4 linked regions of the Homo sapiens genome follow. The protein of the gene in region 1 purifies or fractionates together with the protein of each later gene. This does not show direct contact. Each region holds a gene or a part of one and is shown in the gene's direction. Other genes may lie near its edges. The genes, in order: STK36, RBM28, SARNP and MKI67.

Region 1 (7,590 bases):
TATATGAGGGTCCTTGTTTCTTCACATCCTTGTCAACACTTGTTATTGTCTAACTTTTTTACTATAGCCATTCTAGTAAGTGTGAGATAGTATCTCATTGTTATTTTAATTTACATTCCACTAATGATGAATGTTGAACATCTTTTCATGGCTTATTCACCATTTGTATATCTTCTTTGGTGAAATATCTCAAATCTTCTGCTCAGTTTTTAATTTGGTTGTTTGCGTTATTGAGTTGTAAGACTTCTTTGTATATTGTCAACATAAGACCTTTATCAGATGGGTGATTTGCAAATATTTTCTCCCAGTCTGTGGTTTGTCTTTTCATTCTTTCTCATAAGAGTGTCTTTTGAAGCAAAAAATGTTGAATTTTGATTTAAGTTCAGTTACTGTTTTTTCCCTTTGTGGTTCATACTTTTGATGTTGTGTATAAGAAATCTTTTCCAAATGCAAGGTCTTAAAGATTTTCTCTTTTCCTAAGTTTTATAGTTTTAGCTCTTACATGTAGGTTTCTGATCCATCTTGAGCTAATTTTTGTATATAATGTGAGGAAAGGATCTAAGTTGATCGTTTTTGCATGTGGATATATAATTGTCCTGGCACCATTTGTGGAAAAGAACTCTCCTTTCCTCATTGAATTGGCTTGGCACTTTGCACTTGTCTTTTGGCGCTAACACGTTTTCCTCCTAGTGTTGGATAACTTGCAGTGTGGGGAGGCAGACTGAAAGCTCTGCCTTTAGGGATAAGACTCCCTCTGGTGGAATTCCAGCTGCACTACTCATTAGCTGCGTGATCTTGGACTACTTACTTGACTTATGCAGAAGCTTCAGTTTCTTCATCTATAAAATGGCTAATTCTATTTATTTCACAGGGTTATTGTAAATATTAAATGAGCAGATGCCAACATTTAGAACAGCTAATGGAATATTATAAAATACTTGGTGTAAATGTTCTTCTTTTGAAGAATAACCATTTAAAAATACAATACTGGCCAGGCATGGTGGCTCACGCCTGTAATCCTAGCACTTTGGGAGGCTGAGGTGGGAGGATCACTTGAGGTCAGGAGTTTGAGGCCAGCCTGGCCAACATGGTGAAATCCCATCTCTACTAAAAATACAAAAATTAGCTAGGTGTGGTGGTGGGCACCTGTAATCCCAGCTACTTGGGAGGCTGAGGCAGGAGAATCACTTGAACCCAGGAGGCAGAGAGGTTGCAGTGAGCCAAGATTGCACCATTACACTCCAGCCTGGAGGACAAGAGTGAAACTCTGTCTCGAAAAATAAATAAAGGGCAAAAATAAATAAAAATATAATACTATCCTTAGCATGCAGGCTGTATACAAATAAATGTTAGGCTGGATTTGACCTGTGAGCCATAGTTTGTCAACCCTGATCTAGAGTTGAATAATGTTGTTTTGTCTTTCTGTGGTTAAATAATATTGTTTTATATGCATTGTTTTGAATTTTCAGAAGCATGTGCGGTGCACGTGTTTTTTGTTTTTAAGGTGAAGGGCTGGAGAAGGGAGGGAGCAGATGGGAATGGCACTTAGTCTGACAGAGATCCTGAGGAGAGGCCCCTATCCGTTGGTCACTGGTGTTCTGTGTTAGGTAACCTGACCATCTATTGTCTTCTTCCCTGGTACAGTTCCCCTATTTCCCTGCTTTCCTTCTCTGTGTTTTAGACTTGCAAAGAAAGGAATGCAAGCATGTGGTCTGCTTTCCCAGCTCCTTGGGGATGCTTGGTATGTGTAGTTCTCCTTCTTTTACCTCTGAAAATATCAATCGTTGCCTCTTTCCCTCATGTCACCCAGATCCTGAAAGGCATCTTGGAGGGTGCTTCCCACATCCTGCCTGCATTCCGGGTCCTGAGCAGTCTTCTCTCCAGCTGCAGTGATTCTGTTGCCTTGTATTCCTTCTGCCGGGAGGCAGGGCTTCCTGGGCTGCTGCTGAGTCTACTCAGGCACAGTCAGGAGAGCAACAGCCTCCAGCAGGTAAGCACCAGGCCAGAAGCCTCTGAAGACTTACAGAGGTTCTTTTTCTTGGATTTATCTCATTCAGATTGCCATCTCTCTTTGGTCTGACTGCCTTTTATTTTCTTTCCTCCTCTTTCTAGTTAGTAGACTATTAATTGCAAACTCTAATGCCTTCTGGGGCCAGGCAGATAAGGTCTGCCATGAAGTAGGCTATGCATGTGACTATATGAGTTGTGGGGAATATGATGAACTAGAGTTCACATGCCTCCTCTAAATAGAGTAGAGGCATCCTTTCCTCAGCCTCCAGCCCATTGTTGCCACAGGGAAATATGGGCCTGAGAAAACTAGCCAGATCTTCTAGTTTTCTAAGAAAAGGTAGAAACCCAAATTTTTATGTGTAATTTTTAAATATTTAGAGCGCTGTGCTTTGAAATGTTAGATCCTAGGCTTCATTGACCTGATCTTACAGAGCAGAGTACTAAAATTCAGAGGTAACTCATACACAGTCACTAATTTGTAAATGGTCACAGAGATAACAAGTGGAAGAGCTGGGATAGAGACTCAATGTGTTTGGGGCCAAACCTCTACTTCCCCCTGCTGTGTCCTACGGTAGCTGGACTGAGAGGATGGGGAATGTTTCAGAGTCAGTGTAAATGCCTAATAGGGCCTAGGATGAGGCAGCTGGAAAGCTGCACTTTGTTGATGAGTATTAATCTTGGGTGATTTTAAGGAATTTAGAGAAAAAGATTTTTGAAAAATAGAACCTCCTATACTCCAAAATGCTATTCAGGCCAAACAAGACACATTTAATCCAGGCTGTTCACAGCCCATTGGCAGATTCTCTGTTACCCCTAGAACTCTCTCTCTGCCTATACTTCTCTTCTGTCCCTTTCTGTTTGATCAACTTGACTGGGTCTCTATACACCCTTTCTACTGTTTTTTCTATTCTTTGTTTCCATCCTTCACATTGCCCTTACTCTCTTCTCCTTTTCCTGGGCAGCAATCTTGGTATGGGACCTTCTTACAGGACCTGATGGCTGTGATTCAGGCCTACTTTGCCTGTACCTTCAATCTGGAGAGGAGCCAGACAAGTGACAGGTAGGATAAGAAGTGCTTTTGCATTGTTGGCAAGTTTGGCTTCTGTTTCTACCCCAAGTGCCCTTCCCATTTAGGAACAGGCCAAGTATGAAGAAGCTGTGATTTGTTACAGGTTTAGGAATCAGCTGAGTGGCCACTCATAGTCCTTTTAAGGACCCTAAGACAGCTCCAACTTGGCCTCAAGACTTACAGTTTCTAAGAGTCAGCAGTCACCATGGTCCTAAAATGGAAGGGTCAAGATGTGAATAACCTATTCCAGGAAGCCAATTGGATTAAAGAAAGAAAGAAAGAAAAAAAATATGCGAATAACCTAGAGAAAATGGCAAAGAAGGGGCTTGGAGGGTGTATGTGTGTGTGTGGCAAGGGAGAAGGGAGGAACATTCTGATGTGTCCCTTTGCAGAGATTCTCCTACCTGCCCAGGACTGACCCATTCACCACATCCAGGCTTTTAGTAGAGAGATAAGAAATCATGGGCTCATTTTCCACCCCCAGCCTGCAGGTGTTTCAGGAGGCTGCCAACCTTTTTCTGGACCTGTTGGGGAAACTGCTGGCCCAACCAGATGACTCTGAGCAGACTTTGCGGAGGGACAGCCTTATGGTAATCTGCTCCCACTTCCAGATTTCTGTGTCTCCTATCATTCTCCGTGTTTCTCCCATCCCCTTTCTTATGACTATGTAGGGTCAGATCAAGTTAATATGACAAACATTTGTTAAATTCCCACCATGCCATATGCCATGTGAGTAAGAAAAAGTGCCTGCCTTCAAGGGACTAGGGATAATTTAATAGGGGAGAGGTAAAGGGATTAAGGACAACAGTGAAAAGTACATTAGAACTTTGCATATAATACAAGAGCACTGCTGTATTTTATGAAGAAGATGCAGTTAACCACTGCAGAAGATGCACTTAACACTATTTGGAGTATCATAGAAGAAATCTCGAAGAAGGAAATCATCTCTGCTAGCATTTGAAGAATACATCGCAGTTTGCCACGTAAATGAGGCACAAAGTAGAAATTCTATACAGAAAGAGTAACATATATAAAGGCCCAGAGGCTTTAAGCAGTTTGGCATATTTCAGGGGACCACAAATAGAACGACTTCTTCTTGAAAAGACTTGCAGATCATCTAGTATTGTCTAACCTCGTTTGTCCTGAGGATTAGTAGACTATGCAGTTCTTTTCCCTAGATCCTGGAGGTAAGGGACAGGAGAATGGAGGATTGAATGAGAAAATAGCTGTGTTCTGACTAACCTCAGAGGAGATAGAGAGGAACATATATTTGTAAGGAAGTAAATAATTGCCTGGTCATTGTTAAAACTGGTAATTGGGAACATAGATCTGGACTACTACTTGCCTTTAGCTAGCATTCACTCAGACTTTCCTGGTCTGAGATCCTGTTTTAATATCCCTCACCCTTTCAAGTCAGAAAGCTTTTACTGTCTAACCTAAATTTTGGCCAGCAGTGACTCATGCTATTGGCCAGCACTTCTCATGTCATATGCTATGAATAGAATGGGGAGTTTGGAATAATTACCTCCTGAAATTCTGAATCAGTAGGACTGAGTTGGGAGGGACCCAGGAATCCCTAGGATTTCTTCTTTTCTTTCCTTTTTTTTTTGGAGACAGGGTCTCTCTGTCACCCAGGCTAGAGTGCAGTGGCATGATCTTGACTCACTGCAACCTCCACCCTCCGGGCTCAAGCAATCCTCCCATCTCGGCCTCTTGAGTAGCTGAGACTATGGGTGCACACCACCAGACCTGGCTATTTTTTTTGGATTTTTAGTAGAGACAGGGTTTTGCCATGTTGCCCAGGTTGGTCTCAAACTTCTGAGCTCAAGTGATCCACCTGCCTCGGCCTCCCAATCCCCTGTTGGGATTACAGGCATGAGCCATTGCACCTGACCCCTAGGAATTCTTATACTCACAGTCTATAAAAAATACTTTGAGAAACATCATCTAGGGAGCATCTGATCAGAGAATAGAAGGATTGACACCTAAAATTATTGTCCTTGAAGCATGAATGAAAGCAGTTCTAATGCATTTTTGGTGTGAAGAATGCTTAAAATTAGACATGTGTTTGCTTTGGTTTTTGTCCTCTTTCCTCAGATCCTCAGGGTTTTCTTGTTTTTTACACTAAGCCCAGTCTTCTGATGCCCTGATGCTACCTCTGCACTTCTCTCCTTTAGTGCTTTACTGTCCTGTGCGAAGCCATGGATGGGAACAGCCGGGCCATCTCCAAAGCCTTTTACTCCAGCTTGCTGACGACACAGCAGGTTGTCTTGGATGGGCTCCTTCATGGCTTGACAGTTCCACAGCTCCCTGTCCACACTCCCCAAGGTAACCAGAGTGGAGAAGGGAGGTTCTCTTGACTTACTTGTTGCATAGGTCAGGCTCCGCTCTTTCTATTGCCATCACCTAGATCGCACCTGGCATTTAGTAGGTGCTCAATAAATAACTGTGAACTGAGAGAATGAATGGGGATCTGAGGGAAACAAACAGACCTCATCCTGCATTCTTCCCACTCCCTTAGGTTCCCTACTCCTGCTGCCATGTCGGTGAGTACTGGTGCTATTGTCTAGGGCAAGAGCCTCAGGCCTTTGGAGTTACTCTTTGCTTTTCTCCACAGGAGCCCCGCAAGTGAGCCAGCCACTGCGAGAGCAGAGTGAGGATATACCTGGAGCCATTTCCTCTGCCCTGGCAGCCATATGCACTGCTCCTGTGGGACTGCCCGACTGCTGGGATGCCAAGGAGCAGGTCCGAGCTACAATTGGTTGTTCCTCTCATCCTACTGCCAGAGGAATTGAGGAGGCTAGCCCCAGTTTTTCAGAAAGGCAGAAAAACAAGCTTTTAAGCCCCTCCTTTAGTACTTCCAGAAACAGATGCTCCCACCCTGGGCCATTTGTAGAACATGATATAGCCAGAATCCCAGAGCCCATGGCCAGTTGGTGAGGGAGAGAGCACAGTGATAAACTGCCCAGATGGTGGGGCAGCTGATCTGAAGCCTCCAGTGATGCTTCCTCAAGGGCTGAGAATTCAGCTTTCCTGATCCCTGTTGGTCGGTAATCCTTTCCTCTGTACCTGGCTACACTGGGGCCAAACTAGGCCATGACTTTTGGTTCTCTATTGGTGATGAAGACTGGGAATAGAATGGGGTCTGAGGTTTCTGGTGAATGTGGGAAGAGTGACTAGGAAGAGACTGAGAGTCCTGATCATTTTGGACATATGTGAGGAATAGGGTTGTAATCATGTGGATAGGATTGAGCCTTCAGGTATGTCTCTATAGGTCTGTTGGCATTTGGCAAATCAGCTAACTGAAGACAGCAGCCAGCTCAGGCCATCCCTCATCTCTGGCCTGCAGCATCCCATCCTGTGCCTGCACCTTCTCAAGGTAATCCTCTTAACTCCTGGCATCACAGCTTTATTTTTAACTCCCAGTGCAGACAGAGAAGCAGAGAAACAGACCAAGAGAGGAGGACTAAAAGAGAGAGAGACTGAGAGAGACCATTTGAGACACCCCCTTGGAAGACTCCTTTCTGCTTTTAAATCTGTTCAACTGAGAGGACCCCACTGTTAGCCAGTCCTCAGCGGAACCGAGAAGGGTCCCTGTCTCACTATCTCATAGCAAGAGGCAGAAGGGGGTTCTCTCACACTCCCAAGTGTGGGTACCAGATCTTTTGAGGGGCTGGCCGGTGTTTCCGCTGAGCCTTCAATCTTGGAGCCCGGGGCCTGCCCTGCCTCACTGCCAGACTCCTTCCTTCTCCCTCAGGTTCTATACTCCTGCTGCCTTGTCAGTGAGGGCCTGTGCCGTCTTCTGGGGCAGGAGCCCCTGGCCTTGGAATCCCTGTTTATGTTGATTCAGGGCAAGGTAAGCCAGCTTCCCCTGGCAGCCCCACTGTCTCAGCCAGAGGTTGTTCTGATATCTTAGGTTTCCTTTGTAGGTAAAAGTAGTAGATTGGGAAGAGTCTACTGAAGTGACACTCTACTTCCTCTCCCTTCTTGTCTTTCGGCTCCAAAACCTGCCTTGTGGGTAAGTCATAAAGTAGGGTGTCTCCACAGAAGTCTTCTAGCCACATAGCTAACCCTCACAAAGAGTATGGGGAATGGTACCCTACAGCATATCCTTAGGAGGAATTGGGATAGAGAGCGTGAAGCTTTCTCTACAAAGAACAGACCTAGACTCCCATCAACTTTGTGCCTTGGAGGTAGACATGCAGCCTAGGTGAAGAACACCATGCAAGGGAGAGGGGAGGCCGCTTACCAACCTCCTTTAATACTGCTGCATCCCTTGATGTATCTCTTTATTCCAGAATGGAGAAGCTAGGCAGTGACGTTGCTACTCTCTTTACCCATTCGCATGTCGTCTCTCTTGTGGTAAGTTTTTAACCTTCACCCTCCTCCCCTTTTCACCCTAGCATCTACCCCTTGTGGAAGTGGGGGAGTCACTATCCAATTTGCATCTGTTTCTGGAGGCATTCTTTTGGACCAGGACAGAGACATAAATCCTCTCTGCCTGTCCTGAA
Region 2 (7,590 bases), on another chromosome or scaffold:
AAGAGTCAGCAAAAATCAACAAAAGCATTCTGTAAAAAACTTTTCTAGAATTACAATAAATGGCATTGTATATTTTATTTATAAATTATGTGCTGCACATCATTTTTATCAATGAAATTTATAATAAATTTCTGTACATATATACATTTTTATCCCAGAGAGCCAGTTGTTAAGCATTTACCAGCAATAAATGCTTTTTGTTTCCTGCTTACACAGGTTCTGGGAGTGGCCAGCCCACTCTTTGAGATGTCCCCACTTGCTTTTTTAGTTGTCCAAGTAGTGTTCTGCCCAGCCTTCCCGACTCTCTTTCTTATCCTTCCCTCGAAACTATTCTGTTCCTTATGCTTAAATACTTTCCAGTCATGGGAGCTTTGCTGTAGGCCCTTGGCCTTTCATGGGTAGCTTCTGATACGTGCATGGGTGTTAATAGAGGAAGTTGACCCCGCCTGGGAAGAATAATGACCTATGGAGACCTGGCCCTTTCTCTTATGGCTTCTTAAAGTGACAGCTGTTATGGGAAGTTCAGGCATCTTGACGTGGAAAATACATTGTTCATTTTCTTTTAATTTTTTTTCCCCTAACCACTATACCAACAGGGATGGAAAGATACTTTTAGTTGGAAGGAATTTGGAGCCCTTAAACGACACCTGGAGCAGCTGCCTGTGGGTGGGGCTTTGCACAGTCTCATCCTGGCAAGGGAGGACGAGCCAAGGACCAGTTTTGCAGAATTGTCATCATGAGGCCCTGGTTGTGTGCTGGGCTGGGGCATTGCCCCTTTCCAGGAGGCCAGGCCAAGCAGGGCTGCCTGGCTTAGGCTTTTGCATCTTCAGCATCCTTTCACGTCTCTTATCTCAGGTGACCTTCACAGCAAGCCTGGTGAAGGTTATTGAGAAGCAGATGTCACCACCTAGTCTTAGAGCTGATGAAAGCAGGATGTGGGGAAGTCCAGACCCTCTCCTGAAACCCCTTGGCCACCTGAGCTAGTACCAGAGCAAGGTCCCACTTGGCCGTGAGTGCTGTCTCTAGGGCCTATTTCAGGAACTGTCTCATATATAAGAACAGAACACTTTTTGCCAGCTATACCAAATGTTTTTGGGATTAAAAAAATAGTTTCTCTTTTCCAAATTAGGTGGTAAGAAAAGGAAGGGCATTTTCATTCTCACATTCTTTGAATGTTGAAACGTTTTAAAAACTTCCAGCTGGGCTTGGTGGCTCATACCTGTAACCCCAGCACTATGGGAGGCTGAGATGGGAGGATCCCTTGAGGCCAGGAGTTCAGGACCAGCCTGGGCAACATAGTAAAACTGCCCAAAATTTGAAAATTAGCCTTGTGTGGTGGTGTGCACTGTAGTCCCAGCTGCTCGGGAGGCTGGGGCAGGAGGATTGCTTGAGCCCAGGAGTTTGAGGCTGCAGTGAGCTATGGTTGTACCACTGTACTCCAACCTGGGCAACAGCGTGATACCCTGTCTAAAAAAATAATAAAAATAAAAAAGGATTAAACCCTTTACTTGACCAGCTTCTTTTCCTGCTACCCCTGGACTAACTAATCATTACATATTTTTGTAGTTGTTTTTTCTTTCTTTCTCTCTCCTGATCTACCACAAGCCAAATGTACTCATATACATACTAATAGGTGAAAAAAGAGAGTCTGAGGAGTGAATACATTTATTTTGTGATTTCCTAGGCAGTAGCTAGGACTCCCTTAGAGGTTGCTAATAGGGAAAGGGTGCGCTGGCTCTACTCAGTTTTATAACTGCTTTTCCCCGAATTCTGCAGACATCTTCATTCCCCTGGAGGTCAGATAATGGCTATTTATTTTCCATAGCCATGAAAATCTCTGGGGAGAGCTGTGGCAATTTGACGAGAGCTATTAAAGGGACATTAGGATTGAAGTAGCTGCTCAGGCAGTCACATACCCTCGATCCTCATCTGCAGGGACAGCTGCCAGAACGAATGAGCCCAGCTCTCCTGCCCGCAGCCAGCCGCGTGTGGGTGCAACTGGCGACCAGCCACTGGAGTGAGTCCCAGGGAAGGGGACAGGTTCTTAGAATCACCATTTGTCTCTGCTCTCTCCCTCTCTGCAATAGGACGGGCACTCTAAACTCACATAATGGTTAATAACAACAGCTAACAATTACTGAGCACCTACTATGTGTCAGGCATGTGCTGAGGATGATCGCATCAAGTAAAATGCCTGTCTCTGGCCCAGAGGCCCAGAAGAAGAGAAAGAAGGGAAATCTGTAGGAGGCAAACAGTCCCTTACCCCTCTGCTTGCAGACCTTCAGTGACAGGACACTCCCTGTTTGCTCCAAGCACCTCTTGCATTTTCAGAGCTTGGGACACAGATTCAGGGACTTGCACTTCGATAGAGTGCCTCAGGACCCCTCGTCGGAGCCATGGAAAGTCAGTTTCTGGGCCCATCCTTCCTGTGGGGGTGTCTTTCCTTCTCTTGGCCACCCCCTAGGAATCCCTAGTAGAGAGCAGGCACTTAATAGCCAGTGCAGTGAGAGTGGTCTGTGATGTCTGGGCCAGGGCAAGGCCCGCCAAGTGGGCTCCCAGGTGCCTGCCACAGAGCCTCTGGGGTTTGAGGCCCTCAGTGACCCTTAGGCAATAGCTGGGTCTTAATGAGGGATCATGTCCTTTCCTGGGTAGTCGTGGGTAGAGGGGTGTGAACTGATCTGAGCTACTCTAGGAAGGCTAGAGACAAAAGCAGGAACCAAGAGAAGGGCTGAGGCTCCTTCCAAGAGACTCCAAGTCCTGAGGGCAAGAAGCGGAGAGCCTTGTGCCAGGCCAGGTGTTGCCCCTGTCAGTGCTGACGGACAGGCAAGAGAGGCTGCTGATGCTGCAGCCCTGTGAAGCTGAGACTCACCCTTTGCCCACTTTCACAGCCATCTCCCCAGGAGGCTGTGGTGACACAGGTAAAAGCCAAAGGACAGAGGATGACCCTGGACAAATCACTCAGACCCTCCAGTCCTCTTTGCTCATTTATAAAATACAGGCAAAAAGCCCCCTAGTACTAAATGAAATAGCCACTGTAAAAGAGCACGGGAGATAGGGTCTGTGATGTCTTTTGTCCCCAGTGTCCTGAGTGAATTCACAGGAAAGGGGAGAAAGACTGGTTGCCCACTTCCAGGGTGATTGGCTAATTTCCACTTCTTTCCTGCTAGGGATGGGAACACACGCCAGAATCCTGGGAAGGCTACATGTCCTCAGGTGGTGCTGGCCCCACCTCCAGCCTCTGCAGGGATACCAGGATATGAGCCAGGCTCTGCTCCCGGGGTGACCCATCCTCCTCAGTGCCCCTTCTTTCCTCACAACTGCAGGCAGAAGGAGAGTGTGTCCTGTCTCTCTGAGGAGCTGGCTGTGCCATTTAAGCAGGCCCTAGGGGTGGAGCGCTGTGAAGAGATGGCACCCAGGTCCCTGTTCCTCCTTTTCCAGAGCAAACACTGCTAAGGGATCATGACAGTCCCTGCATCTGGCCCAGACTGGGCCTTGGGAGGCTTTTGACATCAATCCATGCAACCGCACCCAACAATTGGAGTCAGCATGGGAGGTGAGACCCACTTGCCAATTTTGCTCTCAGGGAACAGCCCTCTTTACTAAAACATAGCACAGTATTGATAACAGTTGTTTCCAGGCATCGTAGAAAGCGTTTAGTGGGCATTAACGTCTTTGATCCTCACCACAAGGTCAGGGGTTGGATGATGTTAGCATGCTCATTGAAGGATCAGAAAAGTCAGGCTCAAGATAGCTCGCCCTTCATTCAGCCAGCCGGTGTTAACTGAATATTAACTGTGCACCCGTCTGTGCCAGTGTTCCCCCAGGAGCTGCAGAGGGTCCTGAGCAGAGTGAGCTCAAGCCACTTGGGAGCTCACATTCCAGCTATCAGTGCTGATTCATCTCAAATGTTTGATCCACGCTGGGTTCTAACCCTTCCCTGCTCAGAGCCCTCAGAGTCCAGGTCAGGTAGAACCCAGAACAGAGCCTCTGGCAGGAAGGAGCTTGCATGGTCCTCAGGCTTCATGTCCAGAGATCATTCCTCCACTTTGAGCTTCTTTGTGAAAACCAATCACAAAGAGAGGAGGGGTGAAATGTGCCAAAGCCTCTGCCAGGGTTGTAGCAAGGAAACCTGGGCTTCTAGGGAAAGTTGAGAAAGGGCCTATATTAGTCAGGAGGGCTACTGTAAGAGAGTACCACAGGCTGGGTGGCTTAAACAACAGAAATTTATCACCTTACGGTTCTGGAGGCTAGAAGTCTAAAATCAAAGTGTTGGCAAGGTTGGTTCCTTCATGAGGAATTTCTTGGCGTTGCCTGGCATATAGATGCATCACTGCAGTCTCTGCCTCGTTGTCACATGGCCATCTTCTCCCTGTGTCTATAGGTCTATGTCCAAATTTCCCTCTTCTTATAAAGACACCAGTCATATTGGCTTAGGCCCAGCCCAATGATTTCATCTTAATTTGATTACATCTCTGCTATGGTTTGAATGTGTCCCTTCCAAAATTCAGGTTATTGCCAATGTGATAGTATTGAGATGGGGTCCTTAAAGAAGTAATTAGGCCATGAGGGTGCCTCTCTCTGAAGGGAGGCTCATTGGATTGTATCAGTGTAACATAATTTACATAACCAGTTCTTTATGTGATGGAAATCCCATTCAACGGTTTCCAACCTTTGCTATTACAAACTGCTGTGAAGAGAAACATATGTCATTATACTAATCAGGTGCTGTTGTTGTTTTTATAATGCATTATCCTGGAGAGACTGCCCCTCCCAGGGCTAGCTACTTTGGGGAGAGAGTAAACAACTTGGTCGAGCGTGCCTTTCGTATGCAAACCAGTCAATCCAGAGCCCACACCCCCAGTCACCTCCTTTATCAAACTCTGACACAGCAAGCCAATATTCCCCCTGCCCTAAATCACTCCAGGGCCAGGCATGGGACAACTAGGGACAATCCCTATAGCCAGGGCCTGCCAAAGTTATACAGATTAGCCAATCCTAAGCCTGCTTCCCTGCCTTGCCTTGCCTTTCTGCTGGAAACTACATTAAAGGCGCTGGATCGTGCTTTTCCCTCACCCCCTCTGCTTCTTGGCTGACCCAAGTTCTTCCTGTGTGGCCCTGCAAGGCGTGACACACCTCTCCTCCTGGGAACTGCATAACAAACTCTTCTTGCAGAGATAGTTTTCTCTGTGTCTGTCATCTTACCATACCTGATGAAAACAAATATGGGTACATTTTTTTTTTTTTTTGAGAGAGAGGGTCTCACTCTGTCTCCCAGGCTGGAGTGCAGTGGTGTAATCACAGGTCACTGCAGCCTCGACCTCCTGGGCTCTAGTGATCCTCCCACGTCAGCCTTGCAAATAGCTGAGACTACAGGCACACACCACCATGCCTAGCTAATTTTTGGTGTATTTGTTATAGAGACAGAGTTTCGCTATGTTGCCCAGGCTGGTCTCAAACTCCTGAGCTCAAGTGATCCACCCACCTTAGCCTCTCAAAGTGCTGGGATTATAAGTGTGAGCCACAGCATCCAGCCATGGGTACATTTTAAAGCAGGCGTTTTGTTCATGTGCAGCCCTTGTTCTCAGTTAAGGGGAAAATGAGTGATCCTTTGCTTGGCTCTGAAGGAGCAGTGTTTTATATGTAAAGAATATATTCTGTATATTTAAAGAAGAGCAATGGGGGGCATTTGAAAATAAATCCGTTCATTTTTTTCTGATTGTAAAAATAATATATGCTCAGTAAAGAGAATCTGAAAAATACAGAAGTATTGGGGGAACCCACCCCCAATATTTCAACATAGGTTCTTTCTATTTTCCATAAGTGTCGGCCGACTGAGAAATAAAGAGAAATAGTACAAAGAGAGGAATTTTAACAGCTGGGCTGCCGGGGGTGACGTCGCATATCAGTAGGACTGTGATGCCCACCTGAGCCTCAAACCAGCAAGTTTTTTATTAAGGGTTTCAAAAGGGGAGGGGGTGTAAAACAGGGAGTAGGTACAAAGATCACATGCTTCAAAGGGCAAAAGCAGAACAAAGATCACATGCTTCTGAGGAAACAAGACAAAAGGCAAAACAGAACTACTGATAAGGGTCTATGTTCAACTGTGCGCGTATTGTCTTTTTTTTTTATTATTTAAGTTTTAGGGTACATGTGCACACTGTGCAGGTTAGTTACATATGTATACATGTGACATGCTGGTCGCTGCACCCACTAACTCGTCATCTAGCATTAGGTATATCTCCCAATGCTATCCCTCCCCCCTCCCCCCACCCCTCAATAGTCCCCAGAGTGTGATGTTCCCCTTCCTGTGTCCATGTGTTCTCATTGTTCAATTCCCACCTATGAGTGAGAATATGCGGTGTTTGGTTTTTTGTTCTTGCGATAGTTTACTGAGAATGATGATTTTCAATTTCATCCGTGTCCCTACAAAGGACATGAACTCATCATTTTTTATGGCTGCATATGTGTATATGTGCCACATTTTCTTAATCCAGTCTATCATTGTTGGACATTTGGGTTGGTTCCAAGTCTTTGCTATTGTGAATAGTGCCGCAATAAACATACGTGTGTGTGTGTCTTTATAGCAGCATGATTTATAGTCCTTTGGGTATATACCCAGTAATGGGATGGCTGGGTCAAATGGTATTTCTAGTTCTAGATCCCTGAGGAATCGCCACACTGACTTCCACAATGGTTGAACTAGTTTACAGTCCCACCAACAGTGTAAAAGTGTTCCTATTTCTCCACATCCTCTCCAGCACCTGTTGTTTCCTGACTTTTTAATGATTGCCATTCTAACTGGTGTGAGATGGTATCTCATTGTGGTTTTGATTTGCATTTCTCTGATGGCCAGTGATGGTGAGCATTTTTTCATGTGTTTTTTGGCTGCCTAAATGTCTTCTTTTGAGAAGTGTCTGTTCATGTCCTTCGCCCACTTTTTGATGGGGTTGTTTGTTTTTTCTTGTAAATTTGTTTGAGTTCATTGTGGATTCTGGATATTAGCCCTTTGTCAGATGAGTAGGTTGCGAAAATTTTCTCCCATTTTGTGGGTTGCCTGTTCACTCTGATGGTAGTTTCTTTTGCTGTGCAGAAGCTTTTTAGTTTAATTAGATCCCATTTGTCAATTTTGTCTTTTGTTGCCATTGCTTTTGGTGTTTTAGACATGAAGTCCTTGCCCGTGCCTATGTCCTGAATGGTAATGCCTAGGTTTTCTTCTAGGGTTTTTATGGTTTTAGGTCTAACGTTTAAGTGTTTAATCCATCTTGAATTGATTTTTGTATAAGGTGTAAGGAAGGGATCCAGTTTCAGCTTTCTACATATGGCTAGCCAGTTTTCCCAGCACCATTTATTAAATAGGGAATCCTTTCCCCATTGCTTGTTTTTCTCAGGTTTGTCAAAGATCAGATAGTTGTAGATATGCGGCGTTATTTCTGAGGGCTCTGTTCTGTTCCATTGATCTGTATCTCTGTTTTGGTACCAGTACCATGCTGTCTTGGTTACTGTAGCCTTGTAGTATAGTTTGAAGTCAGGTAGTGTGATGCCTCCAGCTTTGTTCTTTTGGCTTAGGATTGACTTGGCAATGCGGGCTCT
Region 3 (7,590 bases), on another chromosome or scaffold:
AGAAGATCCTTCCTGGGATTTTCTCAAAGTGGTGGGATTACAGATGTGAGCCACTGCTCCCAGCCCCTTATTCTTTTATTACATCTCAACAAATGGAATAGCCAATTAAGCAAAATTAGAACCAGATTTAGCTGAGAAAAACATTAGTACAAGATTACTAACTGGAGCCCTTTTCCTAGATACTGTTACTTATAAATTGTAGGTATATGGTACGTTAGAAGAAGGGGTCCTAGTATTCTTGACCTGATTATTTGAGTGATGTGATTAAAATTTACAAGTTTTTTTAGCTAAGGGTTCTAGTGATCCTTCCTCCTTGGGAGTTAAGCACTTAATTGTCCTACTGTTCTTCCAAAGAAATACTTAAGTGAGATACCTTGAGGAGGTGGTAAGGCTAAGAAAGTGGATTCCTGAGTAAAATGTCCTGGATTCCAATCCTCGTATTATTTGTGAAATTTTGGGTGAGTCACTTAATCTCTCCAAGACTAAATTTTCCTATCTATGAAATGAATTTAATTGCTGTGCCTACTCCATAGGATTATTATAAGAAGTAAATGATGCCAGGTACAGTGGCTCACACCTGTAATCCCAGCACTTTGGGAGGCTGAGGCAAGAGGATTGATTGAGCCCAGGAGTTCAAGACTAGCCTGGGAAACATAGCGAGATCCCCCTCTCTGCAAAAATTAAAATAAAGTAGTAAATGAGCCTGGATGCAGTGGCTCACGCCTGTAATCCCAACACTTTGGAAGGCGAAGTGGGCGGATCACCTGAGGTCAGGAGTTCGAGACCAGTTTGGCTAACGTGGCGAAACCCCATCTCTACTAAAAATACAAAAATTAGGTGTGGTGGCGTGCGCATGTAGTCCCAGCTACTCAGGAGGCTGAGGCGGGAGAATCCCTTGAACCTGGAAGGTGGAGACTGCATTGAGCCAAGATGGCACCACTGCACTCCAGCCTGGGCGACAGAGCGAGACTCTGTCTCTGGGGAAAAAAAAAAAAAAAAGTAGTAAATGAGATATTGCATGTGTAAAGAACTGCACACAGTACCTGGCATATACTAAGCACTCAGATGTTCATGGCTATAATGTTATTATTTTAATTTATTATTATTAAGGACAAGAATACTTATGTTTTTCTTTGAACCTGGCTTAATGTTTTTACAATAGTTCAGAGTACATTAATGAGGTACCCGCTATGGATTTGCTGGTGGTCATAATGAGAAAGGCAGAAAAACTGTGTAGGCAGTAGTTTATTCTAGTAATAAACTGTGATTAAATGATAACTTGTATAGGATTCTTAATTGCTTCATAACCATCATTCTTTCTTAGGTCTCTTCCTACTCACTAGAAAGCAGGTGCAGCAAAAGGGAGAAAATGAACATCTTTCTCAAGCTGAAAGAGTTAAAGACCAAGACAGTACTCCTGCCTGCTGTGTTCAGACAGGTGGACTAGTTAAATTGAGCACAGAAAGCTGGATAGCTGCCCTGCTTTTGATTTGTACAGGTGGCTGCTGTGGCCACAGGGACAAAGACAACTCCTTGGTTGGGGTTGAGAGTAGAGGCATTGAAAAATTGCTGTATATTTCTGTAGGTCTTTTTGTTACCTTTGCTTTTGACCTTGTAGTTTTGGGACACCCAGAGACACAGCCTGCCTATAGACTGTAGGACTATAATTTCCTTGGGATTTAAAAACAAATCCAGCTCAGAAGCACCACACAGACATTCTTTAAAAGTTTGTTTGAGGCCAGGCGCAGTGGCTCACACCTGTAATCCCAGCACTTTGGGAGGCCAAGGTGGGCGGATCACCTGAGGTTGGGAGTTCGAGACCAGCCTGACCAACATGGAGAAACCCCGTCTCTACTAAAAATACAAAATTGGCCGGGCATGGTGGCACATGCCTGTAGTCCAGCTACTTGGGAGGCACAGGTTGCAGTGAGCTGAGATTGTGCCACTGCACTCCAGCCTGGGTAACGAAGTAAGACTCTGTCTCAAAAAAAAAAAAAAAAAAGTTTGTTTGAACTCTTTGGAGACGGAGTCCCACTCTGTCTACCCAGGCTGGACTGCAATGGCATGATCTCAGCTCACTGTAACCTCCGCCTCCTGGGTTCAAGCTATTTTCCTGCCTCAGCCTCCCAAGTAGCTGGGATTACAGGCACCTGCGGCCATGCTTGGCCAATTTTTGTATGTTTAGTAAAGATGGGTTTCACCATGTTGGCCAGGCTGGTCTCCAACTCCTGACCTCAAGTGATCTGCTTGCCTTGGCCTCCCAAAGTGCTGGAATTACAGGTGTGAGCCACTGTGCCCTTGTTTGAACTCTTGCTTATCTGTCCTTCTGTTGGGTTAACAACGTAAATAAAGTCAAAGAAACTGTCCTGCTCTTTAGTGAGGATGGGTACATCTCTAGGGAGTAGAGGGTCTCTTGAGATTATGAGAGAATGAGATCTTTTTATATATGTGCCAAATTTTAGAAAGTCCTTCCTGGGGGAAAGACACCCGAGGAGCCTACCTGATTTCAGATGTTTTCTAATCCTGAGGCTGAGCTTCTGATGACTGGTGATAAGATGTGAGGGGGAGGTGGAGAAAGAGAAAATAACTGTTAAAGTGGGCTAAATAAAATGGTAGGGTTTAGGTTCTGATAGGAAAATATATAGACTCTTATACTGAGCAGTGTTGGACATGAATGATACAAAACACCTAGAATAATGGCGAGCTCCAACTCATGGTAAACTGAAATATTCTCTCATTCCCAGGCAGACATCATGAGTTTCACAGATGCTTGGAAAATGTCCACAGCATTTCTCTTAGAGAGTTGACCATGGCTGTCACCTTGATTCACCTGTTTTAAGAATCATTTCAAACTATTCAGAGCCTTCTATGGCTTTGCTGGGTGTTTCAAGCAAATAAGTTTTTCAGAAATACCACTCTGGCCCTCTTCCCCTTTCTTTCCTTGGTAACGTGTAAGCATTGTTCAACAAGTAGTTTGGGTACCTTCTAACTAGGTGTTACTAGGTGTAACTTTGGGTGTTATTCAGTGAAACCTCAGTTTTCCATATCCCTCAACTGCCAGAATTGCTTGAGCATAGAAATTTGTTTTATGGGTGTTTCTTACTGTTTATTTTATTTATTATTTTTTTTTTTGAGACAGAGTCTCACTCTGTCACCCAGGCTGGAGTGCAGTGGTGCAATCTCAGCTCAGTGCAACTTCTGCCTCCCAGGTTCAAGCAGTTCTCTGCCTCAGCCTCCCTAGTAGCTGGGATTACAGGCGCCCGCCACCACACCCAGCTAATTTTTTTGTATTTTTAGTCGAAATGGGGTTTCATCATCTTGGCCAGGCTGGTGTTGAACTCCTGACTGCCTGATCCACCCGCCTCAGCCTCCCAAAGTGCTAGGATTACAGGTGTGAGTCACCGTGCCCGGCCTCTTACTGTTTCTTTACCCTACTTGTCTTATGAGTATTGAGGCCCTGCCTAAAATTAAGTTTTTAGTCATTCTAGGTACAACATAGTATATGCTAGCTTATTCAGTTTCTTATGTATCTTATCTCTTTATGTGATCCTTAGTTCTTGGCACAGGGTTGGTTAGCACCTTGTGACCAATAAGTTATCATTTCATTCCCATTTACTTGGTGAATGGAGGCTAGTTTGTTTCAACTCTTTCCTTTGTCCTTGAACAGTCTGAAGATGATGAGAAACTGAAAAAGAGGAAGGAGCGATTTGGGATTGTCACAAGTTCAGCTGGAACTGGAACCACAGAGGATACAGAGGTAAAAATATACCTGGAACGCTTCATAGACCTTGAAGGGAAATTAGAGTGAATAAACTGAATGGAGAAATATTGTTTCCCCACCTATTTATTTATTTATTTATTTACTTATTTAAGTCGAGTTGGGGTCTCTGTTGCCCAGGAAGTGAGAGTGAATAAACTGAGTAGAGAAACACTGTTTTCCCACCTACTTCTTAATTATTTATTTATTTAAGTAGAGATGGGGTCTCATTCTGTTGCTCAGGCTGGTCTCAAACTCCTGGGCTCAAGCGATCCTCTGCACTCAGCTCCCAAATTGCTGGGATTATTATAGGCATGAGCCACTATGTCTGGCCACCCACCTACTTCTTAAGTGTCCAAATATTTTGCTTTTTTCTTGATAACTTTTTTTCTGGGTGAAGTGGCAACACTGAATTCCATCAATATACTTAATTCAGTGTTAGAGTCTGTTAGACTAGTGGCAAAGAGTATAACGTTTGGAATCAGGTAGGCTTGGATTCTAAAATTGGCTCTGGGCTGGGTGTGGTGGCTCATGCCTGTAATCTTAGCACTTTGGGAGGCTGAGGCAGGCAGATCTCTTGAGCCCAGGAGTTTGAGACCAGCCTGGGCAACATGGAGAAACCCTGTCTCTACTAAAAATACAAAAATTAGCTAGGCGTGGTGGCACACACCTATAGTCCCAGCTACTCAGGAGGCTGAGATGGGAGGATCACTTAAGCCCAGGAGGTCAAGGCTGCAGTGAACCTGGATGGCGCCACTGTACTCCAGCCTGGGCAATAGAGTGAGACCCTGTCTCAAAAAAGAAAAAGGCGGCCGGGCATGGTGGCTTACGCCTATAATCCTAGCACTTTGGGAGGCTGAGGCAGGCAGATTACCTGAGGTCGAGAGTTCAAGATCAGCCTGGCCAACATGGTGAAACCCCATCTCTACTAAAAATACATTTATTTATTTATTTATTTACTTATTTAAAAAAATTAGCCAGGTGCAGTGGCATGTGCCTGTAATCCCAGCTACTCTGGAGACCGAGGCATGAGAATCTCTTGAAACCGGGAGGCAGAGGTTGCGGTGAGCCAAGATCACGCCACTCCAACATGGGCTACAGAGTGAGACTTGCTCTCAAAAAAAAAAAAAAGAAAAGAAAAAGGCTTTGCCACTTAGTATTAATAAGTTACAGTACTTCCTGAGCCTCAGGTTTCATCATCTAGGAAGTGGAGATAATAAAACCTACCTCAAAGTTTTATTTAAAGAGTGAAACGATTCTGTATAAAAAGGGATAGTTTTAAAATATTTAATAAGAACTGGTTGTGCCTAACTCATTTCTGGAAAAGGACAGTGGACTCAAATGAGACTTCCTGTTCTTGTCACTTTGTTTACAGATAGTTTCTCAAAATGAAAGAATCCCAGCACTTTAGGAGAGCAGTGTGGGAGGATCACTTGAGGTCAGGAGTTGGAGACTAGCCTGGGCAACATAGTGAGACCTCATCTCTACTAAAAGTTTAAAATAAATTAGCTGAGTGTGGTGGCATGTGCCTGTAGTCCCAGCTACTCCAGAGGCTGAGGTGGAGGTTGTAGTGAGCCCAGATGGCACCCCTGTACTCCAGCCTGGGCAACAGAGCAAGACTGTCTCAAAAAAAAAAAAAAAAAAAGTATATTAGGCTGTTCTTGCATTGCTGTAAAGGAGAAATACATGAGACTAGGTAACTTATGAAGAAAAGAGGCTTAATTGGCTTACATTTCTGCAGGCTTTATGGGAAGCATGGTGCTGGCATCTGCTTGGCTTCTGGGGAGGCCTCAGGAAGCTTACAATCATGGTGGAAGGCCTTAAACAGCCATATCTGGCAAGAACTTACTATCTTGAGGACAGTACCAACAGGATGATGCTTTATGAAAAGCTTCTTTTTTTTTTTGAGATGGAGTCTCGCTCTGTCGTCCAGGCTGGAGTGCAGTGGTGCGATCTCAGCTCACTGCAACCTCCGCCTCCCGGGTTCAAGTGATTATTGTGCTTCAGCCTCCTGAGTACCTGGGATTACAGGCGTGTGCCACCACACCCGGCTAATTTTTGTGTTTTTAGTAGAGACGGGGTTTTACCGTGTTGGTCAGGCTGGTCTTGAACTCCTGACCTCGTGATCTGCCTGCCTCGGCCTCTCAAAGTCCTGAGATTACAGGCGTGAGCCACCATGCCTGGCCTATGAAAAGCTTCTTCATGAATAAGTATCAGAGTCAGTCTTGTAAATTAAACCCTGAAAATTTTAGAGTCAGATCAGCTAACACTCTTCACTAGAAAAAAGCCAGAGGAGTTTGTATTCTGCTAGGGGCAGTGGTTGGGAGTGCCCATGAAGGACTTGGTGCTGTTCTGTGAGTCACTTCCAGAACCAGAAGTCTTCCCTCACCATTTTGTGTCCTCTCCAGTGTTGCTGTCTCCTTTAAGAGATCTATGATAGGGACTCACCCACATACCACTCACTCCCTATTCGTTCTGTTGGCATCAAAGATTTATATGCCTTTTTTGTGGGTTGGAGTCCTAAGGAATAGCTACTGTCTGGGCCTGACTGCTCAGAAGGGCATCTCCTTCACCTCTATGAATAGCATTGGTTAATCCTTTATCCTCTGAAATCTTCCGTCTCCCCATTGACTGGAAGACTTTTCCCAGCCTGTTAAGAGCCCATTGTTTCCAGGCTAGCTTGATCTCAGGCTGAGTGGCTCTCTTTGCTTCAGGAATCTTCCCATTTTCTACCACTGTTCTTCTCTCTGTCCCTCACCCCCAGTAATCTTCTTTACTCCTCACCCTCCTTACCCATTAAACTTTCCAGCTCCTACTGGATAACTGGAAGGATTGGAGAGATTCAGGAATGAAATCTCTAGCTACCAAGCTCAAGTCTGGGCCATCCTTCCTTCTCGGGCCTTGTGACAGTTCATGTGAGTTTGGATTAAAGCAGCCAGGAACCCAGGCAACTATTGTCTTCAGTCTAATTTTTTTCTTCTTGCTTCTTCTTTACAGGCAAAGAAGAGGAAAAGAGCAGAGCGCTTTGGGATTGCCTGATGAAAAGTTCCTGATACTTTCTGTTCTCCAGTGTTTTCCATTTCTCTCCTTCTTCTTGGTCACATATATGCCTAAATGCACAGTCATGTGCCTACGTCCTGCCTCGCAATGAGGGAGCATGTACCCCAGGTACATCCATGAACTGCGGCAGCAGTTTGACTTATTGCTGTTTCAGCTTTAAGGTTGTTGTGTTTTTGTTTTTGATTATGTTGCTTGTTAATAAAAAAAAATAGAAAAGAGAACAATGTGTTTTATTAGGTGCTCCTTTGATTTATTGGAGCTAGATTAGACCAGATAAGGGGAGCTTCAGGGGCAAATATTATAGAGAATTGGCCATAATACCTTTATCCCTTAGAAGAGAAGACAAGGAAAAGGACTGAGTTTACCCTTTAAGCCTGTTTATTCCCTTCTGTCATACTCACAAGCATTTTTTATCCTCTGTGAAGAGGTTAAGTTACCCACCCACCAAGTCTTTGCTCCAGCAGCTTGTAGTGACCCACTGAAATAAAACAGAACATGGGAGGTTTTAGGTGTTGCAAAGGATATAAATACAAGGGCAGTGATTAGTAGCCTTCTGTTATTAGCTAATAATGCAGACTTTTTCTTGGATAAAATGGAGTCCAGGGTCCCACATTAAAGGAAAAGGGCCCTGATTTCAAGGGTGATGTGATACGATACTATGTTGGTCAGTCAGTTCAGGAAGGGAGATGGGCTGGATATCCCTCAGAGACAGAAGAAATTTTGTATGCAGAATCAAAGCATGACAGAGGATGTCAGAGCTGTTACGCATTGTT
Region 4 (7,590 bases), on another chromosome or scaffold:
CCCCATCCCGGCCTCACCCTGTCCTCCCAACCCCATCCCCTACCTTGTTCCTCCCGCCTAAGGCATTCCAAGCCTTTGTTCACCTTGGTACTTCTTACACACTTGGAAGTTTACAATGGGAAAGTTCTCCCCTTCCTCAAGCTTGTGTGATTTCCATCATTCAGGCATCAGGTGAAATGTCACCTCTGAGGAAGCCTTGCATGAAAACTTGTATTTCCAACCCCACAGCTTCAGGGGTGAGTTGTGGGTTTGTCTCCCACTAGGCTGAGCTCCCCAAAGGCAAAGACTGTCTTGTTACTAATCACGTGTGTAGGGCCAGGGATGGTGTCTGGCATAGGGGGTGTGATCAATACCTAGCATTCTGGCAAGGGTCAGTAGAAACATGGGCTGGAGCCATGGATTTGCAATCTCTTGAGAACAGTGGTTCTCACAGGAGGGTCATCTAACCTTCCAGGATTCATTTGAATTTCCATGTCACAATATAGGACAGGGGCATGCGCTGTCATCGCGGAGGAGAGGTCAGGGTGGGCATCCTACCAGGCTCAGGGCAGCCCCCACAATACAGAAGCATCTGGCCCAAGATGTCAACAGTGCCAAAGCTCAGAAACACCCATCTATAGTCGTCCTCCTGCCAAACAAATTCTCAGTTGTAAGGGATAGTCTTTCCTTTGCTCTGATGTCCTGTTACCTTAAAATCAAATTATTTTATTGGGGTTAAGGAAGCTTTTCACTTTCCATAGATACCTTTCTCTTGAAAAGGAAAAATATAAACATTTCATCTCCAGTGGCAGTCCTTTTGCTTTTTTATACAGTACTCCTTGAATATATCTTCATGCAAGATTTTATAATTTAGAAATAATTCCTAAGTGTTTGGTCACATGACCTGGGTAGGAAGAGAGATTCTTAGACTCCAAAGGTTCAGATGGAGAACAGACAGGCCATTGCATAGTTTATTCAAATTTTTAAGATCACAGGCTAGAACAGGAACACTGAAGACTCCAAGAACCTACTAACAAACTCTTCTGATTATTAGTTTGTATAGGTTTAGGAATTGTCTCTTCTGCTACTTTGCCATGGTGTTAGCTTTCTGTGGAAAAACAAGTTGAATTTAGATTTTTTTTTTGTGTCGCTTGCAAATTAGTATTTTTATTGTTTAGAGACTTGAATCTGTCAGTAAATTCAGTGTAGTTTTAAAACAACAATGAAAAGCTTACCCATAATGAGCATTTACTATGTGCTAGGCAAATTAGTGACATGTACAACCATTTAATTGAACATCACATGATGTAGGTTCTAATGTAATTTCTTTATTGTATATGAAGAAACTGATGCACAGAAGTGCTAGCATCAAATAAGCACATTTGGGGATGATTAAACCTCTAAACATATTTAACATTACAAACAAACGTTTTTGAAAAAGCACAGAGTATTAAAAATAGTCATTATCCAAAATTGATGTAAGTATTCCTTTGTGTCTTTTAAGTATAGCTTTTCATATAAAAGGTAATTCGATTTGTGTTCTAGTGTTTTCCCTTGTTTTTACATACTCTCTGTTTTAAAGATCTAATAGTTACATGTTTAATACTTCCAAAAGTTCTTTGCAAAATGCAAGATCGTTTACATTGCCCATTTTGTTTGTTACTCCTTTATGTCATATTTACAGATCAAACATTCTAGTCAAATTGTGTTTTATTTTGGGAAATTGAGGTAATCTTTTAAAAAGTTGCAGCAACCAAAAAAACCTTCTTCTTTTGCATGAAGGGGTATTGAATGTGACATCCGTATCCAGCTTCCTGTTGTGTCAAAACAACATTGCAAAATTGAAATCCATGAGCAGGAGGTGAGTGGGTTTTTTGAAGATCTACTTTTAAAGCTTTTTAGTTCACTTTTAATCTGTTCATTAGTTACATATTTCCCCTTCTTTTCACTTGCAGGCAATATTACATAATTTCAGTTCCACAAATCCAACACAAGTAAATGGGTCTGTTATTGATGAGCCTGTACGGCTAAAACATGGAGATGTAATAACTATTATTGATCGTTCCTTCAGGTAGGTAAAAGCTGATTGGTCTAACAGTAAATGTCATCTTCTGATTAACCATAAACTAGTGTCAAAGTCAACTGTCATTCTTCTTTAATGTTCATGGATGTCAAAGTATTTCAGGTTTTCATTCTCAACACTAATCTTAATTTAAAAGGATATGGATCTAGGAAGATGACTAATTGGGACAAAATGTGATGGAATTCAAGGATTTGGGTGCAAATAATTATGCAGAGGGAGGTTGACCTTGTCCTAAAGGAGTTTGTTATTTTCTTCCAAGTGTTTTGAAACTGCATGAGATTTTTCTATTCTTTTTTATTTTAAAGCAAAATATACACAGAGAAAAAGGTACAAAACAAGATGGACAGGTCAATTTATCATGTGAACACCCTTTTGATCACCACCTATTATGGACTGATTTGTGCTCTCCCGAAATTCATATTTTGAATTCCTAACCCCTCGTACCTTAGGATGTAACTGTATTTGGAAAGAGGGCATTTAAAAAGGCAATGAAGGCTTTTTGAGCTATTAGTATGGGCCCTAATCTGATGATTGGTGTCATTATAAGTGGAGATTAGGGAACACGTGCACAGAGGAAAGCCCATGAGAAGAGGCAGCAAGAAGGCAGCCATCTTCAAGTCAAGGAGAGAGGCACAGAGAAATCCAATCCAGCTGACACCTTGCTCTTGGACTTCCAGCCTCCAGCACTGAGAAGGGCATGTCTGTTTTTCAAGGCATTCAGTCTGTGGGACTTTATTATGGTGGCCCTAGCAGACTAATACATCCTCAGCTCATATAGAACATTTCCAGAAGCTTTTTAAAAATGCTGTTGTCTAATCACTACTTCATTCCCTCAGCAAGTAAACCACCGTTTTGGCTTTTAGGATATCATAAACGTCTCGAGTTTCACTACCTAAGCATGGATCTCTGAACACGATAGTTTTGTCTGTTCTTATAAAAGTCCTTAACAGTGATACAAGAATGTATACATTTGTGCCTGGCTTGTGCTTTTCTGTGTGTGAGATTCATAGCATGTTGGACATCTCTGTAGTTTGTTCCTTCTCATGGCATAAGTATTTCACTGAAAAAAAAATGTTTAATATATACAATAATATACATAACTATACAGAATTCATTCATTCTTGATGGACATTTGACTAATGTCTAGTCTTTGAAATGTGTCAAGGTTTGCTTTATGAGCAGATATGGCTAATTATCTTACTAATCTGCCTTGTGTAATTGAAAACTGTATTCTACAGTGTCTCATATATATGTAATATATAATTATTATATATATCACTTATATAATATATAATTATAATATATTATATATAATCATATATAATTATAATATAATATATAATATTATATAGTATATACTATATGTTATATAGTAATATATAATATAATAATATATATTATATATACCATATAGTATATACTGTATACAGTATATACTATATGGTATATATAATACATATACAATATATATACAATATATTTATATTATATAATATATAATATATACATATATAATATGTAATATATATACACATATACAGATACACACACTCCCGTTAGATTCAAATCTATAATCTTAGTAAATTTTCCCCTACTATTATTCTAAGAGATATGTTCAAATCACCTACTGAGGATTGATTGATTGATTTGTTTTTATCTCTATCAGTTTTTGCTTTGTATATTTTGAGGCTGTACTATGGTGTACAAACTTAGAATGATGTCTTGGTGCATGGAACTCTGTCATTTAGAGATGTCCTCTGTTTTTAGTAGTGCTTTCTTTTCTGCTTAATGTTTCCTTTGGATGATGAGTATGGTTAAACTAATTTCCTTTTGATGAGTGCTTGTGTAGTATAACTTTTCCACCCCCTTAATTTTAACTTTTCATAATTGTTATGGTTTAAGTTGTCTCTTGGAACCTGTTGTCAGGTGACCTCTTGTGTTTAACTGGAATATCTTCTTGCTGGATTGATCCTTATATAAAATGTCCTTTTTCTCTATGAATAACTTTTGTCTGAGATGATTTTGTCTCATGTTAGTACAGTACTCCAGTTCCCCTCTGCTTGCTGTTTGCATGGTATATCTTTTCCCATGCTTTTATTTTAAAAGATTGTGTCTTTGAATCAAAATTGCGTCTCTTGTAGACAACGTATTAGTTGGGTCATTTAAAAATCCATTCTGCTAAATGAATCTCTGTTATTGTCTTCATTTGTATTAGCTGTTTTTTAATGCACCACTTAAATTCCCTAGTCATTTCTTTTACTGTGCTTCTGGGAAGTTTGCCTTCATTTTTAAAGAGTATTTTTATTGAATACAGACTTCTATGTAGGAAGTTTTTCTTTTTTTCTTTTTCTTTTTGTTTGTTTGTTTGTTTGTTTTTGAGACAGAGTCTTGCTCTGTCACCCAGGCTGGAGTGCAGTGGTGTGATCTTGGCTCACTGCAACCTCCGCCTCCCGGGTTCAAGTGATTCTCATGCCTCAGCCTACCAAGTAGCTGGGATTACAGGCACGCGCCACAACACCCGGCTAATTTTTGCAATTTTTAGTAGAGACGGCGTTTCACCATGATGGCCAGGCTGGTCTTGAACTCTTGGTCTCAAGTGATCCACCTGCTTCAGCCTCCCAAAATGCTGAGATTACAGGCATGAGCCACTGCGCCCGGCCTATAGGTAGGAAGCTTTTGATGTTTATTGGAGGGCTGAACTATTTTTCAAAACAAGATATTATCCAAATTGAGATAAATTCAGATGATTAAAGACATCCAACAAAGATTTGAAAGTGAATCTTAGAAAGAGAGACTTGATTCCAAACTCTCTACCATGAGAAATAATATCAGATGTGTGACTGCTTCAGATCTTACTTAGGTTGCCTATAAATTCAAATCAGGTCATTTCACTGAGGCCAAAAGTTTTCATTATGCAAAATAAAGGATTGCTTCTATGACTTGATCACTGAGGTTTGCCAGGACAATTATGTATCTTGCTAAAGGTGATCTTCTTAAGATGTACCTGTCTTGTTCAGATACAGACTGAATGTGTGGGAAACTGAAGTGATCATAGTGTTCTAAAATATAGGTTTGTAGTTACCCTGTAGTGTAAGTGTAGCTTTTTATTTACCCTGAAGTATGTAACTTCACAACGTGAGAAAGATTCAGTTACCTACAGGCTTCCTGGCTGGCCTTCCAAGCCATCCGATGATTTCCATGGACTTAAACTAGAAGAAACTTGACTTTGCTCTCATGTGCATTAGCTTATGTCATAGAAGGTGCTTGGTAATATTGTCAAATCATACCTGGGCTGTTCGTCAGTGATCAGAAGTTAATCTGGGTCCCCAGCCTCTGACAGTGGTATTTCAAAACAAACTCGATGCAACTAATCCTAGTTTTTAGTGTAAAAGCACTTTTCTAACTCTAAATTTATTTCTTTGTATAAGGTGATGTCTTGAACTAAACCCAAAGTTTGTTCGTTGATCCTTGGACATTAAGTGGATATGGAGACTTCCGCCCCAGGGTATAAATTTTTAATCAGGATCTTTGTCGTTCTATAAACTGCAGGTATGAAAATGAAAGTCTTCAGAATGGAAGGAAGTCAACTGAATTTCCAAGAAAAATACGTGAACAGGTGATAGAAAATATCCAAGTTTGGGCTGATTCGTTTCGATGATATGAAATCATTTATGTATGCTTTAATGATTTCTTACTTGAAATCAGTTACAAAGAGGGTGGTTACTGTTATAGTAGGAAAATGTAACTAAAGTATAAAAACGAGTTGAACTTAGACGTATTAAAATAATCTAAAATGATATTTCCTCTTTATTGTTCAAAATCAGAGCACTAAGTTGGTCTTACACTTTTAGCCAAAAAGTCTATTAGAGCATGTTGCGAGCTTTTTGCAAACCCATGATTAGGATAACCCCAACACGTAGAGCTAACATTTGGGAATTGCATTATCTGGTGGCTCATTTTGTCGCCCAGTCATTGTACTCATCCGTCTTTATGTGTCTGAAATAATCACATTATGAAAATCATGAGTGCCAAAGATGCTTCTCTATTTTGATAGATAGACGACCCATGAAACAGGAAAAGGGATCCTGTGCTTTGTCTTGTGAGAGAATCCTATAGTTTGAGTGTATCAGTGTGGAACAGGTATTCCAATTGTACAGCTTATGAAAACATAATTGTCGACACGTGCTTCGCAATTTAGATAGTTTGAGTATATCAGTGTGGAAGAGGTATTTTAGTTGTACAGCTTATTAAAACACAGTTGTCGGCATGTGCTTGGAAATTTAGTGGGATTTAGGCTTAGGATGAGCCCTGAGAATTCATATTTTTCCTACATTTTAGAGTGCTCCTAAAGCTAGTTTCAGATGAGCTCCTTGGAATATCTTGGCTTAGGAGAGTTATCTTAGGTGCACCTGAAATTAGCAGTAGGTACTCTTGAATTTCAACATTTCTGCCTTTTTTTTTTTTTTTTTTTCTGAGACGGAGTCTCACTCCGTCACCCAGGCTGGAGTGCAGTGGTGCGATCTTGGCTCACTGCAACCTCCGCCTCCTGGGTTCAAGCAATTCTCCTGCCTCAGCCTCCCGAGTAGCTGGGACTACAGGTGCACACCACCATGCCTGGCTAATTTTTGTATTTTTAGTAGAGACAGGGTTTCACCATATTGACCAGGCTGGTCTTGAACTCCTAACCTCGTGATCCACCCACCTGGGCCTCCCAAAGTGCTGGGATTACAGGCTTGAGCCACCATGCCCAGTCCATTTCTGCCATTTAAGTACTGCCTTCTTCCCTAGAGGAGCAGCCTTAATGTTGAATCTGATGGTCATCAGTTCCCGTGCTGGAAGCCAGTTTCTGAGGCATCCCACACTGTAGCCACCAGGCAACTTGCTAGTCTATGGGAGTAAATAAACCAAAAAGCCAGTTGAACTGTGGGTTAGATATGTGCCACTCAGCAGTCTAGGAACTGTTTGTTCTGTTACTGGTCTGTGATATAGTGAGTACTGAAATGGAGTATGTAGTAAATATGACAGCAATTCGACAGCAATTTTGTGGCTATTGAATGTAATCGTACAACAAAAGTGAGATTATATACTTTACATATTCATAATTTTATTAGTGGTTCATTTATATTGTTTAGTCATAAGATTCTTGTTCCACTTCAGATTGGAAATAAAAAACCATCCCTCACATAGATAGTTTTAGAAGCAAGGTGTTACGTATCAAGAAACCTAAAATTGATTAAGGAAGTTAGATTCTTTGCCTTTGTTAATATTTTTTAGATATTTTCTTAATAATCCAGATGATAAGCTTTTCTTCCTTTGGGGCATCAGACTTTTATAAAAGTTATATATATATGTTATTCTTTAGTTCTTCCACCCTTCCGGAAATAATTCCATATGAAGGAAAGTTAGGGCGCTGTCTCTGGGGAGCCAGGTGGGGGCGCTGCGCCTGCTCCCAGGCTGTGAGGTTGCAGAATCTGTGAATATACCATGTGTGCCTGTACCATGAATTTACCTAGGGTGAATCTAGGCTC

Evidence for each region.
Region 2: the proteins of STK36 (region 1) and RBM28 purify together in Homo sapiens (affinity purification with mass spectrometry; one large-scale study listed by BioGRID and IntAct). This does not show direct contact.
Region 3: the proteins of STK36 (region 1) and SARNP purify together in Homo sapiens (affinity purification with mass spectrometry; one large-scale study listed by BioGRID and IntAct). This does not show direct contact.
Region 4: the proteins of STK36 (region 1) and MKI67 purify together in Homo sapiens (affinity purification with mass spectrometry; one large-scale study listed by BioGRID and IntAct). This does not show direct contact.

The regions. Positions count from the first base shown.
Region 1 is NC_000002.12:218,686,887-218,694,476, forward strand, and holds part of STK36 (serine/threonine-protein kinase 36), read left to right. Parts: intron 1-1,810; coding exon 1,811-1,990; intron 1,991-2,972; coding exon 2,973-3,070; intron 3,071-3,563; coding exon 3,564-3,669; intron 3,670-5,256; coding exon 5,257-5,407; intron 5,408-5,696; coding exon 5,697-5,824; intron 5,825-6,353; coding exon 6,354-6,458; intron 6,459-6,836; coding exon 6,837-6,935; intron 6,936-7,008; coding exon 7,009-7,097; intron 7,098-7,377; coding exon 7,378-7,441; intron 7,442-7,590.
Region 2 is NC_000007.14:128,296,671-128,304,260, reverse strand, and holds the end of RBM28 (RNA-binding protein 28), read left to right. Parts: 3' UTR 1-6,576; downstream 6,577-7,590. UniProt on the Homo sapiens protein: Nucleolar component of the spliceosomal ribonucleoprotein complexes.
Region 3 is NC_000012.12:55,756,718-55,764,307, reverse strand, and holds the end of SARNP (SAP domain-containing ribonucleoprotein), read left to right. Parts: intron 1-3,667; coding exon 3,668-3,757; intron 3,758-6,754; coding exon 6,755-6,796; 3' UTR 6,797-7,038; downstream 7,039-7,590. UniProt on the Homo sapiens protein: Binds both single-stranded and double-stranded DNA with higher affinity for the single-stranded form. Specifically binds to scaffold/matrix attachment region DNA. Also binds single-stranded RNA. Enhances RNA unwinding activity of DDX39A.
Region 4 is NC_000010.11:128,117,341-128,124,930, reverse strand, and holds part of MKI67 (proliferation marker protein Ki-67), read left to right. Parts: intron 1-1,761; coding exon 1,762-1,840; intron 1,841-1,934; coding exon 1,935-2,050; intron 2,051-5,611; coding exon 5,612-5,678; intron 5,679-7,590. UniProt on the Homo sapiens protein: Protein that associates with the surface of mitotic chromosomes and acts both as a chromosome repellent during early mitosis and chromosome attractant during late mitosis.